Linked DNA regions of Homo sapiens: regions 2, 3 and 4 are each linked to region 1. The links come from fine-mapping of genetic effects on plasma protein levels. A gene starts in region 1. Each other region holds a variant in brackets. All regions are shown on one strand. Distances are from middle to middle.

What was found. PIP is the chance, under the fine-mapping model, that this variant and not a neighbour inherited with it causes the effect. The UK Biobank Pharma Proteomics Project read protein levels with antibody pairs (Olink). The fine-mapping took linkage between variants from a reference panel, not from the people measured, so its PIPs are less certain.
Region 2: its variant is fine-mapped to the plasma level of the SIRPB1 protein (UK Biobank, PIP above 0.99). The variant lies in the coding sequence of SIRPB1. If it changes the protein, the assay may bind it differently, which can mimic a change of level.
Region 3: its variant is fine-mapped to the plasma level of the SIRPB1 protein (UK Biobank, PIP above 0.99).
Region 4: its variant is fine-mapped to the plasma level of the SIRPB1 protein (UK Biobank, PIP above 0.99).

Annotation. Positions count from the first base shown.
Region 1 is chr20:1,617,783-1,622,933 of GRCh38, forward strand. SIRPB1 (signal regulatory protein beta 1) reads right to left here and starts at 2,227. Exons shown (of 6, transcript NM_006065.5): 1 at 2,087-2,227. The coding sequence starts at 2,162.
Region 2 is chr20:1,568,301-1,573,451 of GRCh38, forward strand. SIRPB1 (signal regulatory protein beta 1) reads right to left here. Exons shown (of 6, transcript NM_006065.5): 3 at 3,420-3,737; 4 at 2,505-2,837. Among named protein-coding and RNA genes, the nearest start is that of SIRPD, 13 kb to the left of the region's middle. The variant T/C (reference allele first, on the strand shown) is at 2,618.
Region 3 is chr20:1,535,016-1,540,166 of GRCh38, forward strand. SIRPD (signal regulatory protein delta) reads right to left here. Exons shown (of 4, transcript NM_178460.3): 3 at 2,140-2,295. LOC105372499 (a long non-coding RNA gene) reads left to right here. Exons shown (of 4, transcript XR_001754464.2): 3 at 4,742-4,997. Among named protein-coding and RNA genes, the nearest start is that of SIRPD, 20 kb to the right of the region's middle. The variant C/T (reference allele first, on the strand shown) is at 2,925.
Region 4 is chr20:1,555,318-1,560,468 of GRCh38, forward strand. SIRPD (signal regulatory protein delta) reads right to left here and starts at 2,388. Exons shown (of 4, transcript NM_178460.3): 1 at 2,264-2,388. The coding sequence starts at 2,336. LOC107985409 (a long non-coding RNA gene) reads left to right here and starts at 2,690. Exons shown (of 3, transcript XR_007067493.1): 1 at 2,690-2,807. The variant C/T (reference allele first, on the strand shown) is at 2,416.

The sequences.
Region 1 (5,151 bases):
ACATGATAAGTATATACAGTTCTGTCAAATAAAAATAAAATATTTTGTTAAAAGTTTCATTGAAATTAGAAACTTGGAGAAACAATGATAAAAAATGAAATCTCCTGTGTGTGCATGTACACTTACTTATATGCATACATGCATATACATATGTATACACACATATGTATACACACATTTGCAAATATATATACACACACATATATGTATATATACACACACACACATATATATGTATATATAGACACACACATATACATTCACAAATATATATCAAAGTGTGACCTATTGTGATAGTATATAAGTTTGTTTTGTGTATTAAATAAAATTACAACACACGTTAAAATCTCATTAAAATATCTGGCCCATAGAAAGTAAAATATGTGGCCCATAGAAAGCATCCAACACATTAATAACAAATTTAGAAGTACATACATCACAGTTGTAACTCTGGTTGTTGCTAACAAGTGTGGTAGGCAATAATTAATTCTATGTTTACTTCCCTGCATTTTCTAATATTTCTGCTAGTAGCATAACACGACTAAAAGAATGAACTTTGGAGCCGGTCGACCTGGACTTGAATCTCAGCTGCTCCACTGACTGAGGTAGGGGACAATGAATGGACAAGTTCCTCCCTCTGCCTGAGTCTTTGTTTGGAAATAGGGGATAATAGTTGCAGCTTTCACACAGGGATGTTGTGAGGATTAGTGGAGCTAAAACAGGCAAAATGCTAATAACTGTGTCTACATGGTAGGAAGAGCTCAATTGTTAAACTCTTACTGCTGTCATTTGGGTACAGTGTATGTGTGAGAAAAATAATTTGAAAAGTGAGACCCCTGCCCTCTAGGGCCTGTGAGGTGACATCACAGCAGGGCCCAGTGGGGAATTGAGAGGCTGCTGTGCCCAGCCCTGTGGTTCTGGGGTCAGCTCCATGGCCTGAGAAGGGATCAGGACAGGTAACTTGTCTGGGAGCTGTGAGCAGGGTTCTCCCAGGCTGCACCAGGAAAGGCCCTCCAATCCTGCCTGTCTTGGGAAGGGGAAAGAAATTATCCATGGGAAATTTAAGAGAACCAAAGGAGGTTGTAGTACCTGTTATGGGCTGAATGTGTCCCACAAAATGCATGTGTTGAAGCTCTAATCCCCAGCACCTCTGAACGTTACAGTTTGGGAGACAGGGTCTTTAAGAAGTAATTTAGTTAAATGAGGTCATTGGGGTGGGCCTTAATACAACAAGACTGATATTCTCATAAGAAGAGGAGATGAGGACACAGACACACACAGAGGAAGATCATGTGTTTAAGACACAGAGAGAAAATGGCCCTGTATAAGCCAAGGAGAGAGACTTCAGTAGAAACTAACCCTGCTGACACCTTGATCTTGGACTTCAGCCTCCTTAACTGCAAGGAAGTAAATATCTGTAGTTTCAGCCACCCAGCCTGCAGTTCTTTGTTATGGAAGCCCTAGGAAAGGAATATAGGACCCAGTAAGCAGCAAATGTGGAACTTCTTAAAGAGGAAGAGGCCACAGAGAAATGGGTGGTAAGAATCAGGTCACAGGGGAGGGAGGAGCATGGGGGAACAGAGGACAAAGTGAGGAGCACCCTTAGGGAGGATGGTGGCTGAACACTCCCAGGATACACCACACCACTGCCCTACTCAAGTGAGCACTATTACAGACTTCACATCCTCAGTTTGGTGAAGAGAGAGGGCTGGGCCTAGAGCCACATAACCCTGTTAGGGTGTCTCTGAGCTTACTCTGTGGACTTGGGCATGTCACTTGGCCCTAGGGCCTCAGGACTGGTGAGGATTTAGATAATGATTCTTCTCTGCTTTTTCAATTGAAATATTATCAAAATGTAAGTAATTGTTGTTGTGGTGGTTGAATCGTCCTGTGGTTCAATGCCTCTGGTAGCCAGCTGCAGATCCACAGAGAAAGTGCTCAGCTCCCTGATTTTCTGCTCTCAGTCAAAGCCTAATCCTTGGCCTTTCTTGGCAGCACTTGTCATTGTCCGGAATCCCTGAAAGTCCAGGGACAGGCCATGGCTCAGTGGGCAGGAAAAAAGATTTTAACCGAAGGCAGTGCTCACCTGTGAGTCTCCCCAGCAGTAGCGTCATCAGCAGGAAAGGACTAGGAAGGTGGGGCCAGGAGGCTGGCACGGGCATTCTGGAGACCTTAGGAGCCTGCTCTGTCCAAACGTCTGTGCTGGGAAGATCGCAGACTCTGCTCTGAGGAGAGAAGACAAGCCCTGCCTCCCTTAGTTCAAGAGGAAGTGGCTGCGATGGAGTGAAGCAGTAACCTGCTTCTGGATTGTGAAACAGAAATCAGGAACAGCAAGCAGCTACAATGCAAGCAGTTATGCATGCCCCATTTCAGGAGAATCAGACAGGCTTAGCAGAAATAATGCTTCCTTCCCACCTGAGGTCTTAACTCCTTCCATGACTCCTAACCCCATCTTTATGTCTTCTTGGTGATTTGCCATTTGGTGCTCTTAAGCCAGGAAGGACCTGTGGTTATGAAATGTTTCCTAAACTTTCCATCTCAAGACCTCAGGATGTGGTTGGCTTGTGGTCTCATTCTACAACAGCCTCAACCAAGTGCTACTCAGTTGGGGCAGGATGAGGGATCACTGGACCTGCTCAGTGTTGGAGAGGAACAGGTCTGCTCTTGAAATGGTTCCCTATTCCGAACTTTTATAAATATAAATGGCAAAACTTAGCCCAAATTCAGTCTCATGTGGCCGTTAGCACTTTCATATGCCTGCACCCAGCAGAAGGAATTATTTCCTGACTTCTTCCAGGAGAGGAAGTGGGCTTAGGGTAATAAGGATCTGCTTTGTGAGGTGAGGTGGGGATTATGGGTTATGGAAAGGGGATATGTTTATTATGGGGGAGAATATGGAGGGCAGATTCCTGGAGCAGTCACATCGATTTCAATACTCTTTGCTCTGCACATAGAACACCTATTCCATTCATCACTGTCTTCAGATGGGAACTGAGGAGGGAGGGAGAATAAATACCCTAAGAAGATGTGCTAAGGAGTTGGGGAAGTTACTGGGCCTGCCTAGGTTCAGTTTTGCCTTCTAACCTTGGGATAATAAGTCTCACTGCCATGTTTTAGTGAACATCAAAAGAGATAATGACTATACATCCCTGAGATTCAGTAGGTTATTATTGATACTCATGGTGCCAGGTGAAGAGAGGGAACTCAAATATTGCTTTTAAATGGATTTCTACTGCATGCTGAGTTTCCCACCAGTGGCCTTCTCCCATGTTCCCCGGACTTCTGGAACCCAGCTTTTATGGTGTACTTGGTCTACCTCTGACACTCTGAGATCAATTTCTCCCTCTGGATCCTCTTCACCCTGCTTTTTGTCAATCTGTAGATGAATTCCTTTTCTTACAATCTCCAGCTGTGTGACTTTCAACAAGACACTTGACTTCTCTAAGCCTTAACTTAATTACATGTAAATGGAAGTTATAACATGCACCTTGTAGTGATATGGTAAGAGTAATATAAGCCATACAGAAGGTTTGATTCATATTTAATTATAACCAAAAAATTGTGGCTATAATTACATTTGTGTACAGGGTGAGTTCACTGCTTCCCTGACATACTTGTGCTTTAGAAAAATTTCCTTGGTAGGAGAAATGGTTTCTCCTCCATCATCTGTGACTAAGAAAGACCTGTCTGGAAACCTCTCTTTCCCATGCTGGGCTTGCAATCCTTCACCTATCATGAGTAATTGTCAAATGAAATTGTAAAAGTCATCACATTTCCATGCAAATTTCTTTTTCAATGTGGCAGATGCACAGAGGGTGAAATCATCACCTCCTGCTCCACACTCACAGAAATGAATATAAAAATGATAAAATCATGTTAATCGATGCCAAATTACACTTTAAAACAAGAAACTAGTCTCTATATGACATGAAGGGTAGTAGCTGCTGTGTTTACTGCAGATGTCCTGTGCTCCAGGTACTGTGCCAAGCATTTTGTCAGTTACCTCATTAATTCATCACTCTGGTCCCATGAAATTAGCACTACCATTAACCTTTTTTTATAGGTGAGGAAACTTGAGGCACGCAGGCAATAATACATTTGTTCAACATCACCCAGCTTTTAGAACTAGAACACAGGTTGTCACACTCCATGGCCTTCACTATGACACCTCTCATAAGAAGGGAGAGATATCTCTCAGGAAGGAAGCAGAGAAGAAGCCATAACGTCAATTAGGCGCAGCCTCCACAGCAAGGTTGGGATAGGTGCCATGTTCCATAAAGTGCTGACAGCCCATGATCACTCAGGGCATTATTCCTGTAAAGATTACAGTGAAAGCAGTAATCACTAAAGATTTGGGGAAAAGCGACATCATAATAAATTCAAAAACAATAACTAAAAAACAAAAACAGCAATGAAAATAACATCTTAGAAAATAATACCTCAGAAAATAAAAATATAAAATGTGAAAATATTTTTAACATTAACATATTTAGTAACCTTATAGAGATAATGAAAAGAAAGTAAATCCATAAAACAAAGTCACGTGTGAAACAAGAATAGGTAGGTGTGCAGTAACAACAGGTATCTGAGAAAAGTAATAAAAAGAAGAATTTTGAAAAAATATAATTAGTGCTAAATTGTTTAAAAAACAAATAGGTGGATGTATTAATCTGTTCTTTCTATAATTGTTATAATGAAATACCTGAGACTGAGACTGGGTAATTGATAAAGAGAAGAGGTTTAATTGGCTGATGGTTTCAGAGGCTTTACAGGAAGCATAATGCTGGTATCAGCTTCTGGGAGGTCACAGGAAACTTACAAAAATGGCAAAAGGTGAAGGGGAAGTGAGCATATTTACACGACCAGAGCAGGAGGGAGAGAGAGAGTAGGGAGGTGCCACACATTTTAAAACCACCAGATCTCATGAGAACTCACTCATCATCATGAGAACAGCACCAAGAGGGAAATCTGACCCAAAGACCCAGCCAACTTCCACCAGGTCCTACCTCCAACACTGGGGGTTACAATTCAACATGAGATTTTGGTGGTGGCACAGATCTAAACCTTATCATTTTCTCCTGCCCACTTTCAAATATTATGTCCTTATCACATTGCAAATACAATCATACCTTCCCAGAAGTCCCCCAAAGT
Region 2 (5,151 bases), 49 kb before region 1:
AGGCTCCCATGCCACTGATGCAGCACGTCACAGAAGGCATCCTGCAGTTTGCCTGCCAGCCTAGACAACCTAAAATGCATTTCCAGACTTAGCATATGTGCCAGGATGCCATGTCAGACACACTGAAAGAACCCAAAAATGGCAGCCCTCTCTCAGCCCCAGTGGGTGGTTGGAAGTCTAAGAAAAGACTCAACCTTGTCCAGATGGTACAGACTCATCTCATCCTGTGCCTCCTTGAGAAGTACAACTATGAACCCAAGAAATATCATGAGGAGCAGGCATAGGAGAACTTCCAAGGTGGAAGAGCGAGGTAAGAACCTGAGGACTGAGGAACAGCCCAGCAGCCAAACAGCAGGGACTCTATGCCCAAATACCAGCCCCCAGCCACAGAAAGTGATGAAGGGAGGACATAGAAAAGAGGAGGTCTCAAGTCAATAAATATAAATCCCGCACTTAAAGAAACTACAAAAAGTAGGGCAAAGTAAACCCAAAGAAAGCAGGAGATAGGAATTAATTTAAAAAAAAAAAGAGAGAAGAGAGCAGATAATTAATGAAACTGAAAACACAAAAACAATACAAAAACCCATTGAAACAAAGAGTCAATCTTTTGAAAACACCAATAAAATGGGAAAAAACTCTAGCATGACTGATGAAAAAGAAAAGAGAAATGACACATTTTTAGTATCAGGATGAAACGTGGGATACCATTGCAGACCCTGCAGACACCAAAAGGGTTATGAGAGGATATTATGAACAACTCTACACACATAAATATGACAACTTAGATGAAATGGACCAAAAGTTATGCAAAACACAACTTACCAGGGCTCACTCAATAGGAAACGAAAAATGTGAATAACCCTAAACTATTAACGACATTGAATCTATGATTATAAAATATCCAAAAATATCCCTGGGGCCCAGATCTTTCAAAGGAAAACACAAGCATTTAAAGATAAATTAAAACCAAATTTAACACACAGGAAAATGGTTCTAAAAAATTTGGTAAAATGTGAATGTATGCTCCATTTTAGATGATATGAGGAAATTATTTTAATAACTTTATGAAATTTAGTGATTTGAACACTTAAAATTTAAGTGGACAATGACACTGGTTTTGTGAAAAATGTCCTTGATCACATGATCCCTCAATGTGCAACTGCAGGTGCATGCGTGAGCAAGTTTTCAGTGGACGTGACTATGCACCTTCCACACATCTCTGATGATTGGGGACATTGTTTGTCTTCTATTTCGTGTCTTTCCTCTTCTGGCAGGCAGGGACATGAACAAATCCGTGACTCAGCACTGACCCAGGAGATGACGCAAACATCATAGGGTGTTTTGGAAGGAACCTGAGTCCTTATTCTTATTTCCTGGAGCCTCAGGGCAGAAAGAATAGAAGATTGGGCCCCAGCCATCATTAGAAGAGTAGCAGAATCACAAAGGATGTTGAATGTCAGCTTTAATGGCTTCTATGCTGGGGTTGGGCCCTGATGGGGAAGTTGTGGGACCCTGAGATGTGGGAGGATGTATTCGGGTCAAAGCACTCAAAGATTGTCTTTCGACTGGAGTAGAGGGACCCCTCCTGGTATTAAAAGAGAGGGAAATAAGACATATTTTGGTTATAGAGAGGGGGAACACTGGCCAAATTTGGGTCCTTGGGACAAAGCGCAGCAGAAAGGGAAAGTTTCTCTAATTAGCACAAATTCCCATTATAGCCTGGTAGTGAGCCTGTCCTCAGGGACTAGATTTACCTTCATTACTTTGGACCAATAACCTGGTCTAATGACAAGAAGTCTTCAACAACATCCCTCATTACTTCCTAAGTCCTGGTTTCCCCTTTGGTAAAACTCCAAGCTCACTGGGTGTTTGAAGCAGGAAAGGAGATCAGAGATGAACAGAAATTTGCATATAGTAAATGTGCAGAGTGGTTGTGATTATTGTTGGTCAAATATCACCATCAGAACACAAAAGAAGCCTGTGCTGTGACCAGGTCACCTGGGGGTCTGTCCAGGCTTAAACTTCACTTGTCTTTCTGAAATTTATAGAGCAGATGCTGGAGACTGGTGGCTGAGGTCACAGATGCGGATGGAAAAGTTTAGGATAGAATAGGGACAAGGTAGAGGTTAGAAAGTGTAAAAGGCAAGGTGCTGTGCTGGCGAGAAATGCAGAAGAAGGCGAGACACAGGACTTCATAAACAAACGGATCACCTCCCTCTCTCTTTTTTCCTTTAATGTATATTTATGTCAAAATATCTATCAAGTTGTGCATCAGACTTGACGCACAGTTTCTCCTGGTAGATGGGGCTTAAGGGTGTCTACAAATGGCCAATTGTTACCTTGAACCTTCTAAGTAGTGGTGACCCATGGAGTGTAGGATTTTAATGTAGACGTTAAAATTCTACTTTATATTTATAGACTTCTAGCTTATTTTATGACAAGCATGAATATTGCTTTTAACATTAAAGAAAAAGACAAAATTTAAAAATGGGAAGTAACCGCACCATGGGTGATATCTGAGCCGTGCTCCTTCTGGTGCGCTGAGATCTCCAGGGCATAGCTTTTGCTGACTGCTTGCTGCCCATCATGCTCCACCTGACAGGTGAGCACCACATCG[T/C]CCCTGTGGGCACAGGTGTTCACCAGGAGCCAGCTCATCCAGTTGTAGGTGCCATCCTTGTTCTCTATGAGGGTCGAAGCTGTTTCTGTCCGGGACACATTTCCATTCTCCAACCAGGTCAGCTGTAGTCCCCGGGGGTAGAAATTGCTCACCTGGCAGGTGACGTTTGCCTGGTTCTCTGCCCTCATGGGCTGTTGAGTAACCTCCAAGGTGGGTGGAACTGAAACAGCACAGGGCAGAAGCTCTGATCTTGTGGCACAGACAGATCACAGGGAGGGCTAAATAACGTAGCTCCCACCAACACAGTGAGGGCATCACCAGGACAGTGCTAGGCAGGCAGCAGGTGCTCAGACATTGAGGGCACTCGTTGCATATGAGTGAAATTACTAAGCACAGTGCCTGGCGCACAGTAGGTGCCCAAGGACTGTTAGCTGCTGCTAGGCTAAGGATGAGTGAAATCTACAAGCACAACCCCTGGCATGCAGTTGGAATGTAAGAACTGTAGCAAAATCAGTGAAATCGCCGAGCACATAGTGATTTGGCTCCTAGTAGGTGCTCACTAATTGTAGTTGCTCTTGGTGAAATAAATGAAACTCTGTAGCCCAGAGCTTGGCACATGGTTGCTGGTCCCCTGACAGCTGCCATTAAAATGATAGTAAGTGACCGGCTCACCTAGGTGCATGGGAGGTGGACAACACAGTTAGGAATTAGATTCCAGGCCTTTCAAGCTCTGGAGCCTGGGGAGAGGGGAGTGGGCTTGGCAGCCAGGTGTGGGCTTGGGCTGGGTGTGAGGGTCTTCTACCTCGGATGGCCTCAGACAAGTTGGCAGTCCCACGAAGAGGGTCCCCCTGCAAGGTGATGTGGGCTATCTCGCAGATGACTTGAGAGTGAACGTCCCCACGGGTCAGCACCACCCTGGCTGTGCTGTGGATGCTGTAGGACACACTGTCTCCTGCGGGGTCCACGTTGGTCTGGAAGTCTGAGAGCTCATTCCCATTTTTGAACCATTTCAGGGTGATGTCTCTGGGAGAGAAGCCATGGGACTCGCAGGTGAAGCTCACTGTGTGCTCAGGTGTGGCCCTCACCGCAGGGCCCGATACCACGGGGGCAGAGGGTTTGGCTACAAAAGGACCATCGATAATCAGGAGACATGACTCAGATGACCATCACTGATGATAAGCGTTTGACATGTTAAGAACCTTCTGAGACGTTAGTTTTTAATCTTTCTAATAATGTCGTGAAGGCAGTGTCCTTATTCTCATTTTACAGATCAGGACACAACAGCTCTTAGAGGTGAGAACCAGGCCATGGTCAGACAGTGAGTAGGGGCAGGGCCCAGAGGGAAGTCCAGGCCTGAGTTCAAAGTCCTCTCCACACAGGGAGACTTCCACCAATCTGGGCATAGGAACAAAATTACTGATTGGTCTCCCTCCATGTTATTAACTGGTCCTAGCTGTCCTCCCCCGGAAGGCTCACTAACCTCAGAGAGGGCATTTATAGAAGCCAATACAGGGATCAATGGCAAAGTGGCACCACCGTGAGAGCTGCAACCAGGCTGCTCAGCCCAGGACAGGGGTGGGCTGACAACCCCAGCTCCTCATCCGCAAAACAGGAGGACGGAGGACGGCGTTTCTACTTCCTGGGATGTCGCCAGGATTCAATGGGGCAATGGAAGCAGTTTTGCTCTGGATCAAACACAGAAGATGCTTCCCCCAAAAAACACAGATCTATCTTTAACCCAGACTTTACAGATACACAGAGGTCTCTCTTTAGGTATTATAAAAATATGAAACATTCCGTATTTTTCTTTTCACAAATATTTCGTTCTGTCAAATAAAAGGCATTAATTAAGGATAAAGCTTTAACGTAGAGCCAAGAGTTTGTAAGAGCATTGGAATCACACCTGCTAAAGGTCAAGCCACAGGATGTTGCAGTAGATAGACCTGGATAACAACTGAAGCCAGGGTCCGTGGGATTTTGATCTCTTTCACCTGGAGTACTTTAATGAAATAACCAATGAGAGTGGGTTTGCAGTTGAGGATTTTCAACCAGCTAATGAACTGTTTCCAAAAACAACCTTTTGTGAAAATCCCCTATAAAAAACCTGTCCTGTATTGCCATACGGGACACTATTCAGGGTTTCACTGACTCAGTGTACCCAAATTGCACCTCTTTATCTTTCAGATAAATGCTATTTCCTTTGGCCTTCCTAACAATCATTTTGCTGTTGTTGTTAGTTGTTCTAATCTGCTGGAAGTCCTAAATTTGAAAAGAGGAAATTTTTGGGAATCTGAATCTTCAGTTAGGACAGGTTTGGGTGAAAAACAAGGATCACTGAGTACTAAGAAAGCCAAAGGTGGTTAGCTTTTTCATCGTTAATTAATTACAAGAGACAAAGACCCAGGCCACACCAACAGACAGAAACCTATTCTGGGCCTTGAAAGCAAACACATTGGAGAATCAGAACAACGAGTGCAGTTTCTCCATGTAGATGAATTTTAAGGGTGTCTGCAAATTGCTAATTGTTACCTTGA
Region 3 (5,151 bases), 83 kb before region 1:
TGGCCCATGTCCAAGAATAGGAGTGAGTTAGATAAATGATGGTACAACCACAAAATGGAAAACTATGTAGAGATTGAAATGATAGTGTTGATGTATATATTGGGGATGTATTGATGATGTTGCAGACACATATATATTTACATAGAAAAGGGTCCCCAATTTATCATTGAGTAAAAGAACAAATAAACCACCATATTTTGTGTAATCTTATTTTTGTTAAAAGTTCGATGTATCTAGAAGCAGCACAGTGAAGAGGTCAAAGTAAGAGCTAGTGGAGTCCCATTGACCCAGGTTTCAATGCCTCCTCTATTGCTTGATTGCTATAGTTTAAATATTTGTCCCCTCCAAAATTCATGTTGAAATTCAATCCTCAATGTGCAGTATTGAGAGGTAGGGTCTTTAAGAGGTGATTGGGTCATAAGGACTCTGCGTTATTTCACAAATTAGTGGATTAATGGGTTATCATGGGAGGGGAACTGTTGGTTTTATAAGAAGAGAGAGAGAGACCCAAGTATAGTATGCTAGCATGCTCAGTCCCCTCACCATGTGATACCCTGTGCTGCCTCAGGACTCTTTAGAGAGTCCCCACCAGCAAGAAAGCTCTCACCAAATATGGCCCCTTGACCTTGAACATCTCAGCCTTTACAACTATAAGAAATAGGTTCTTTTTCTTTATAAATAATCCAGTTTCATGTATTCTATTCTAAGCAACAGAAAAAGGACTGACATTGGTGTTTTACTTTGCGAAAATAACCTCCCTGAGGCTCTGTTTTCTTATCTATGTAATGTATACAATGTGGAAAGTAAAACTTCCTCTTGCAATTTTGTTGTGATACTGAAACCTGAAAATCTTTGAGAAACACTCAGGACTGTGCTCATAGAAGGACTTCTGTGAAATGGGCTTTCCATTCTTAACTGCAAGTCCAGTAGGCCAGGCTCCAGCCCTGACAACCTGGTGATTCTAGGAAGCGCACACCATTGCTTGGCTTTCAGTTCCTTCTTCTACCAAGCCTGATGGACCTTTCTCAGTTCCCATGACTTCTGTGAGTTCTAAGTGAAGACATAGACTTGCCAAAGACACAGAGTGAGAGTTGCAATGGCCGGATGCAGCAGGACTATTTTCGTGGGCTCATATTTGCACTTATTAAGCCCTAAAAGGCTGTAACAACCAGAGCTCACATAGGTGGTTCTGTGTGCTACACATTACTCCAAAAACTTAACTATATTAATTAACTAGTTTGATTCTCACCACAACTGTATTGGAAAGGCATTATTATTTATCCCGATTTCACAGACAAGAAAACAGAGGCACAGAGAAGTTGAGTAACTTATCCATAGTCAAACAGCCTACAAATGATGAAACTTGCATTTGAACCCCGGCCTGTCGTTTTTTTTTTTTTTTTTAATGCCTGTGCTTTTAACCACTTTATTAGTTGGACTCTAAATTGAGATGTTAACACCACTGGGAGAAGAATGGTTGCCTCTCCTGACTGTGCAGATCATCTTTGGAGAGAAGAGAGTAGACAGGCAGGAGAAACACCCGCATCAAGAACGTAATCCTAGGTTTCTGAGATTCTGGGAGACTTACTAGTCTAAAAAGGACCATTTAGCAATTTTTTCTAATAGTTCTACATTGCATGTGTAGTACTTGTTGTTATCTATCTACCTATCTATCTATCTAATCTATCTATTAATCACCTATGCATCCATGTGTACTCATCTTAATGACAGCATCCCTGTCTCCCTCCTGGGGACCAAGGGGTCAAATGCTGCTCCTCTACTTCTTCTCTCAGGATGGCATCAGGTCCTGCAGGTCAGGCCTAGGGGGTCGTGGAACCTTCACAGGACATCAGGGGTGTGGGAAGTGAGAGGGACTGGGCACCCCTGTCATGGGGAAACGCCTGGATGGGAGAGAAAGCAACCCCTCCAAGCAAGAAGAATTCTGGAAGGATTTGTTTTGGAGACACTAGTTATAAAACAAACTATTTAGGGAAGTGTCTTAAAGAGGAAGGGGTGGCAAAGAAAGAGGCCCTAGGACAACAGAGATTCATCCGCCCCACTGCAGGTGGCGAAATGGTACCGCCGCCAAACTCAGGAGAGCATCCCTGCATCATGGTACCTGAGGGTGGGGGCACTCACCTGTGAGTCCCAGCAGCCGGAGGCAGCAGCAGGGTTGGACGAAATAGTTTGTGCTGTTTCTCTCAGGCAGGGCCGAGAGGCAGGTATGGGCATCATGGTGGGCCCTGGAGCCTGCTCTGCCTGCAGGTCTGTTCTTGGGAGGTCTTGGATTCTGCTCTGCTGAGAGAGGCAAAACTATGTGTTCCATGATATAAGAGGAAGTTACTATGATGGGAGGAAAGGGCTGTAGGATTATGACCGTTCCAGTTTCTAGATTGTGAAATAGGAATCAGACACAAGCTAATAAGTTACTGATATAAGGGTCCCAAGGTGCTTGGAGGGGCCCTGGCAGACACCCTTAGTGCCTAGGCTGTGTCCTTTGGGCCCCTCACTTTGTGTCAGGTGTGCTGGTGACCCTTCCTCATCCAGGAGCCCAGGAACAGGGTCTGCCATAGAGAACGGTGTGTCCAGCCTCCTGTGATAGTCCAAGACCTGGGCTCAGATGAGCTGTGCAGCTAGTCAGGAGGAGGGCTCCCGGGAATGGGGCTTCACAGGTGTGGATCCCTGTTTTTCCCCACTCCAGAGGTGTCAGTTGTAAAAATGATCCTGAAGCCATATCTGATGGGAGGCTTTGGCTCTTCAAAGTACGCTTACAGGGGAAGTGACTTTGAGTGAGCAAGGAGTTCGATCTTGGGAGGAGGAGGATAGTTTCTGTTTTAGAGAAAAGGGGAAGAAGCCTGTGTGTGTCAAGCGGGGGGTGCAGGGCCTTAGTGTGCTCATACTGCAGGAACAGTGACATGCAGAAA[C/T]GCAGCTGGGAGGAGGAGGGGTATCTCTTTTTTCTGTCCCTAGTCTGGGGCCACCTCTTGGGAGAAGGGAGTGGAGGAGATGTAGAAACACTCACACCAAGAATACATCTCCTCTCCTCCTTCTGAGCAGCAGCCACCTGCACATGAAATCACATTCAGAGCCTCTAGCCATGAGCTCATCACTTCTGTGGACCCAGTGCCAGACACTGCCTCCTGTGACTCAGTTTCCCCACTGCTCCCCACCCCTGCCTCCTTACCAGTGGCTGACCGGATGTTGGTGATGAGAATGGTGATGAGAAGGGGTGGAATGAAAGGGGCCAATCAGCGATGAGATTTGATTGCTCTGTAGCATGATGAGTGTCCCTCTCCCCTCGACACCTTATTCTAGCTTGTTAAACATTTTTTCTGAGAGGGATTTCTTGACAAGGAACTGGCCAGAGTGTTCCGTTTAGCACTCTTTGTTCTAACTCTAATCCCTGTCTTCACTGATGACAGATTCTATTTTCTAGAGCTGACTGCAACAAGGTCCCTCTTCACTCATGCTCTTCGACACTCTTCCCATGGAGATGTAGGCATATGTTCCCTCCCCCTGAGTTTGGGCAGGTCTGTGACTGCAACAGAAGGGATGTGATGTGACTTCTGAGGCTAGACCATAATAATTCCCTGCATTTCTACCTGGCTTTCTTGGGATGCTAATTTTTGGAACCTTGCCACCATGCTATGAGGAAGCCCAAACTAGCATGCATGAAGAGATCACATTGCAGGGACACATGTAAGAGTTCTAACTGACATCCCAGCTAAGATGCAGCCAATATCCATTATCAATCATCAGACATGTAAAAGAAGAAGCTTCCAGATGACCCAGCAGTTGAGTCATCCCCAGGTGAGTTTCCCAACTGAGACCCCAGGCAACATATAGCAGAGATAAGTCATTCTTGTACCCTGTCTGAATTCCTTACCCACAGTGTCATTGATCATAATAAGATGGTTGTTTTTTTGACCTTGTGTTTTGGGGTGTTTTGCTATGCAGCAGTAGTAACTAGACAGCACCCTTGGCAACATCTTCCCCACCCCCACTGACCACACTAAAATTAAACCTTTGTCATTGTTTTAGTAAATTGTTGTAATGGATGCTTTCATTACTGGGTTTCAATCATTTTTATTTTTCTGATATAGGGATTTAAGGCTATAAATTCCAAGTACAGCAGTAACTACATGCCTCAAGTTTAATGTGCAGTATTTTAATTATTATTTAGTCCAAAATATTTTCTAGTATCTGTGGTAATTTCTTTTTTGATAAATCAGTTATTTAGATTATTTCCCAAATTCCTAATATATGAGGATTTTCTAATGATCTTTTTGTAAATATTTATAGTTTAATTCCACAATGATCAGAAAACATACTTATATAATTTTGATATTTCAAGATTTGTTGAGACTTGCTTCTTGACCAAGCTTATGATTAATTTTAGTTAATATCTCACATGGGCTTGAAAAGGAGCTGTGTTTTTCAGTTGTTGGGTGCAGTGCTCAATTACATCAAATTTGTTAATCACCTTGATCAAATCTTTTGTATCCTTACTGACATTTTGTCTGCATGTCCTCCTAGTTACTGAGAGAACTGCTGTGGTAGTCAGCCTTTGAGATTATCTCCAGCTCCTGGCATTCACCCCACTATGTAATCCCTTCCTCTGGATCTAGTGATTCACTTCTAATGAAAAAGTAAAAGTAACAGGATGTCACTTCTGAAATTAGCTTATAAAGAAATTGTGACTTGTATCTTCTTCTTCCCCTCTCTCCTGCTTCTTGAGGAGAAGCAGCTGCCATGTTGTGAGCTGTCCTATGGAGAAGCCCATGTAGCAGATATCTGATGTCTTCAGCCAGTTGCCCGCAAGGATCTGAGGCCTGCCAATAGCCATGGGAGTGAGCTTGAAGTGGATTCTTCTCCAGTTGAGCCTTTGGATTATTGCATTATTGGCAGACACCTTGATTGCAGCCTTAAAAGAGACCTTAAACCAAGATCACTCAACCTAAACTATGTCTAGAATCCTGACTCACAGACACTGGGAGACAGTAAGTGTTTGTTGTTTGAAATCACTAAGTTTTGGGTAATTTGTTATGCAGCATAGATGACTAATACAGATTTGTTAAGAATCTGGTAGCTTAATTGTGAGAAGGCAATGTGAAAATGGAACACAGAGAGATTTAAAGACACTGGCCTTGAAGA
Region 4 (5,151 bases), 62 kb before region 1:
TTACCAGGGTCTGGGGTGGTGGAGAGTTGGACAAGGAAATGGGAGATGCTGGTCAAAGCCTATAAAGTTGTAGTTAGACATGAGGAATAGGTTCTGGTGATCTATTGCACAGCATGGTGACTATAGTTAATGCATACTTCAAACTAGCTAAAAGAGTAGATTTTAAATGTTCTTACCACAAAGAAGTGATAAGTATGTGAGGTGATGGATATGTTAATTAGCCTGATTTGATCATTTCACTGTGTAGACATGTATAAGAACATCACATTATACCACATAAATATATACAATTATTATTTGTCAATTAAAACCAAGATAAAATTTAAAAAACCATCAAGTTGTACACCTTTAAAAACAAATAAGTTCTACAAAACAATGGAGGACTTTATTTTGAATGGTTTTGCCATCTTACTCGGTATATTCCTTTTCTATCGCTGAATAACAAATTACGACAAACTTAGAGGCTGAATACAACACATATTAATTATTTCACAATTTTTGTCCATTTGTAATTCAGATATAGCTTAGCTGGGTTCTCTGCTTCAAGGTCTCACCAAGCTCCACTCAAGGTGCCAGCTGGGCTGTGTTCTCATCTGGGGGTTTGACTGGGGAAGTGTTCATTCTAAGTTCACTCAGGTTGTTGGCAGAATTCAGGTCTTTGTGGTTGTAGGACTGAGGCCCTCAACTTCTAGGGGCTTCCCTCAGTTCATTGCCATGTGGGCCTTCTCACAGGCAGTTTGCAACATGGCTCCTTGCTTCTTTAAGGCCAGAAGTTGCAAAAAAACTCTAGTGTGATAGATCTTACACAACCTAACATACTCAAGGGGGAGACAGTGCATCACTTTGGCCATATTCTATCAGATAGAAGCATGTCACACACAACTGAGATTACATAAGGGTGGGATAGTTGGGAGTCACCTTACAGTCTGTGTACCTCACCCAATAAGTACAGTTAAAAATTCAAGTGAGTTTTACTAGCTTTAAGTATCTTAAGTTAGCTTTTACCTAAATATTTTTAGTCATCCTTAACTCTCCATTGAATAAAAAGAGGAAGCTTTATAGTTACCCTTCCTATGTATAAAGCACAGACAGATATAAATGCAGTACATAAACCAACAAAGAATATATCTAAGTTATTAAAATTTCATGTTGAGGCTATTATGAGTTGAATTGTATGCCTCCGAAATATATGTTGAAGTCTTAACCACAAGTAGCTCAGAATGTGACCTTACTTGGAAATAGAGTTACAGAGGAAATCAAGTTAAAATGAGGTCATTGAGGTGGGTGCTAATCCAATATGGTGGATGTTTTTATAGGAAGTGGAAATTTGGACACAGAGACAGACATACATGGGAGTAAGATGATGTGAGGATACAGGGAGGGTGGTGCCACCTGCCATCCAACAAATGTTTGAGGCTACCACTGCTAGAAGCTCAGAGACAGACATGGAACAGATTCAACCTCACAGTCCTCAGAAAGAACCAACCCTGCCCACACTTCGATTTTGAATATCTAGTCTCCAGACCTGTGAGAAAATTAATTTCTGTAATTTAAACCACCCAGTTTGCAGTACTTTTTAAGAGCAGCCAAATGCAGTGGCAACAGAGAAATAAAAAACTGAATTTCACAGAAAGAAGTGTAAAATCTGCCAGGGGCCAGGTGTGGTGGCTCACGCCTATAATGCGAGCACTTTGGGAGGCCGAGGCAGGTGGAACTCTTGAGCTCATAAGTTTGAGACCAGCCTGGGCAACATGGTGAAACCCCATCTCTACAAAAAAGACAAAAATTAGCTGGGCATGGTGGCGCGTGCTTGTAGTCCCAGCTACTTGGGAGTTGGAGGCACGAGAATCACTTGAGCCCAGGAGGTGGAAGTTGTAGTGAGCCAAGATCGCACCACTGCACTCCAGCCTAGGTGACAGAGTGAGACCCTGTCTCAAAAAAATAAGTAAAGGTAAAAATAAAATAAAATAAATTACACCCTCCAGAGGCTGGAGGGTGAGAGCTGTGATGGATGCTGTGCCCCGCCCTGTGACCATAGGTGTGAGTCGTTTACCTGAGCAAAGAGATTTGCAACAGACATGGCCACCGGGAGACTTTGTCAGAATTGGGGACCATCCCAGTGTAGTCTTCTGAGTTCTGCCTGTTCTGGGATAAGATGGAGAAAACCCTCCCAAAAGAAATTCTATGGGAACAGGTGAGGGAGAGTTCACTAAACAGGCAGAGGGGAGAACCCACCACACACATACACTGAGGCCCCACTCACCTGCCAGTTCAAGCAGCAGATACAGCAGTAAGGAAGGCAGAGGTGGGTGGAGTGGGGAGGCAGGGATGGGCATTGTGGTGAAACCTGGAGCTTGCTCTGCCTGAATGCCTGTCCTGGAGATGCCCTCGACTCAGTGCTCCGAGCAGAGAAGA[C/T]AGTTCTTGCCTCTGTGATGTCAGAGGAAGGGGATTGTGATGAGAGGAAAGGCCAGGGGACTGGGACACTTTTTCCTTTGTGATTATAAAATTGAACAGACAAGGTTGCTTCAAGCTAGGAAGTTGCTGCTGGAAGTATTTAGCTTTGCTGGGGCTGGGGGGCTTGACACCCACAGCCTTATACTCCTTCCTGAGTTTCATCCCATCTCACAGGTTCTCCCCAACTTCATGGCCTTTGCCTATCTAGGAGCCTCAGACACATAGGCTAGACAAAGGCCTCATCCACATGATGCGCAGGTATGGGTCTAGCTCCTGCATGAGCTCAACATCTGGGCCTGTCTGAGCTGCACAGCTGAAGAAAGAGACAAGATGTCTATAGCCTCACCCACTTGGTAAGAGTTGGACTTTACAATGGATGCCCTTTCTTGCACTCCAGAGTAGTTAGAGGTAAAAAACAAGCAATATCTGCTGTGGGCTCTTGGCTTTTCTGTGGGTCCCTCCATACACTACCAGGAACTGCTTCCTTTTTCCTTCCTGCAGAGGAATCAGGCATGGCTGAGAAAGACATTCGAGTTGTGCAGGTGGTGATGATTTGTGCTTTAGAGGATGGAGGAGGCCTGCAGGGAAGGCGGAGCTGCGGGGAACACTCTCTAGGAGGGAGAGTAACATGCCTACAAACACCTGGGAAGGTGAGGGCTGCCTCTCCTGCTTGGGCTGGACCTGGGACCAGCTCTCAGAGATGGGATTGGAGGGGCAGAAGAAATGCCCCCAGAAAGAGGGAGGAAGCAGCATGTTGGCATCCTTCTCTCTCAGCTCTGGAATGGGTTCTTCCTAAGCACAAATGTTGTGTTCAGGGACACTCAGCCCACACTCAGCTGGTGACCCTTTAATGTCCAAGCATCCACAGGCAGGCACTGGCTGCCATGGCTGTTTCCCCATTGCCTCCTCATGACTTCTGCCTCCTCCTCAGGAACCAGCTAGATGTCAGGGCCGGGAGAGGTGTTAGACCCTCTAGGAAAAGAAAGCAGAGCCAGGCTGGCACGTTCTCTCTGAGACGACAAGAGTCCCCATCCCCTTGTGATGTCATCATCCTATCCCGTTGTTCTGAAATGATGAATTCCACAAAGGAATTCCTATCCATGGCCCCTGCTTGGAACTAGACAGGAACATTCCTCCAGCCTCCATCATCCTCCCCTTCCCCTACTCTGAGGAATCTTCTCACCTTTCATTAGACTCTAAGTTCCTTGGAGAGTCAGTACTCACGGGTCAGTATCCAAGAGTGCCAGCTTTGGAATCAGATATAATCTAGGCTAGAATCCTGAACGCACCTCCTAAGAGCTGAGTAATCTTGGGCCCATGATACAGACCTGTATATTCTGCAACCTTCTTGACATCTTCATTTGTATATATATATATATATGTATTTTTTTTTTCGAGACAGAGTTTCGCTCTTGTTGCCCAGGCTGGAGTGCAATGGTATGACCTCGGCTCACTGCAACCTCTGCCTCCCGAGTTCAAGTGATTCTCCTGCCTCAGCCTCCCGAGTAGCTGAGACTACAGGCGCCCACCACCACGCCTGGCTAATTTTTGTATTTTTAATAGAGACAGGGTTTCACCATATTGGTTAGGCTGGTCTCGAACTTCTGACCTCAGATGATCCACCTGCCTCAGCCTCCCAAAGTGCTGGGATTTCAGGTGTGAGCCACTGAGCCTGGCCTCTTTGTATACCTTAAATATTCAAGTTTGAGTTTCAGATCTGCACTCACAAACCTTATCTTCTCCCACACCATGCCTGTTTTGTATATGGTACCATCATCTAAGCAGTTTGTCAAACCAGGAAGGGACTCATGTTCTATACCCTCACTTATCCACTTGTTACCAAGTGAAAGGGGGTTGCTGCCTGATGTGCTAGAAGCCAATACTGTGACACCAGGCTTTTGAGAAAAGAAAAGCTTTTTATTGCAAGTTGACTAACAGGAAGACAGAAGTCTACCTCAAATCTAGCTCCATGTGCTGGCTTCAAGGCAGTAGTTTTATTAGCAAAAGTTTAGGGGTTGGATTCTGGGATTAGTATGTGATTTGTGAAAGGAAAGGGGAGGTCTGGAAAGTCCTTGGGCATGTACAGTTATCTCTCTATGCCTCTTCACGGCTCCCATGTGCAAAACCCTGGGGCGTCATCATGAAATACGTGGTAGAAACTCAGGCTGTGACATCAGCAAGCTCATTCTGAGCAAACTCCAGTTGGCCATATTGGTTCCAACAGATTTTAGTCAGTTTTGTTATCCTACAAGTGGAGGAAGTTTCGGCAGTTTAGCAATTTTTTTTTTTTCTTATCTGCTATCCTGTAAACTCAAGAATTTCTTAGTGACTGGTTTCTTTAACTCTTTGGGGGCATAGTTTCACACTCCTATCTTGCCCCTACCAGGCCCTATTGGATTTACCTCCTAAATCCCTTCTGAATTAATCTCTTTCTCCATCTCTATCATCATCTCTTGCCTGAATAAGAACAATTGCCTTCTCACTAGGGTACCCCCATTTTTATTTGCCCCCTATAATCTCTTTCTCCTTCTTCAGCCAGACTGGTCTTTTTACAACATAGATTTAATTATGTCCCTCTCTTGAATAAACATTTTTGTGGATTCTCATTAATCTGGAGGTACTATAAACAAGGCTTTCTTCTGTGACTGACTTGCTCCCTTAGAGATGAAGGGATCCCCACCTTTCTGATACGTAGCA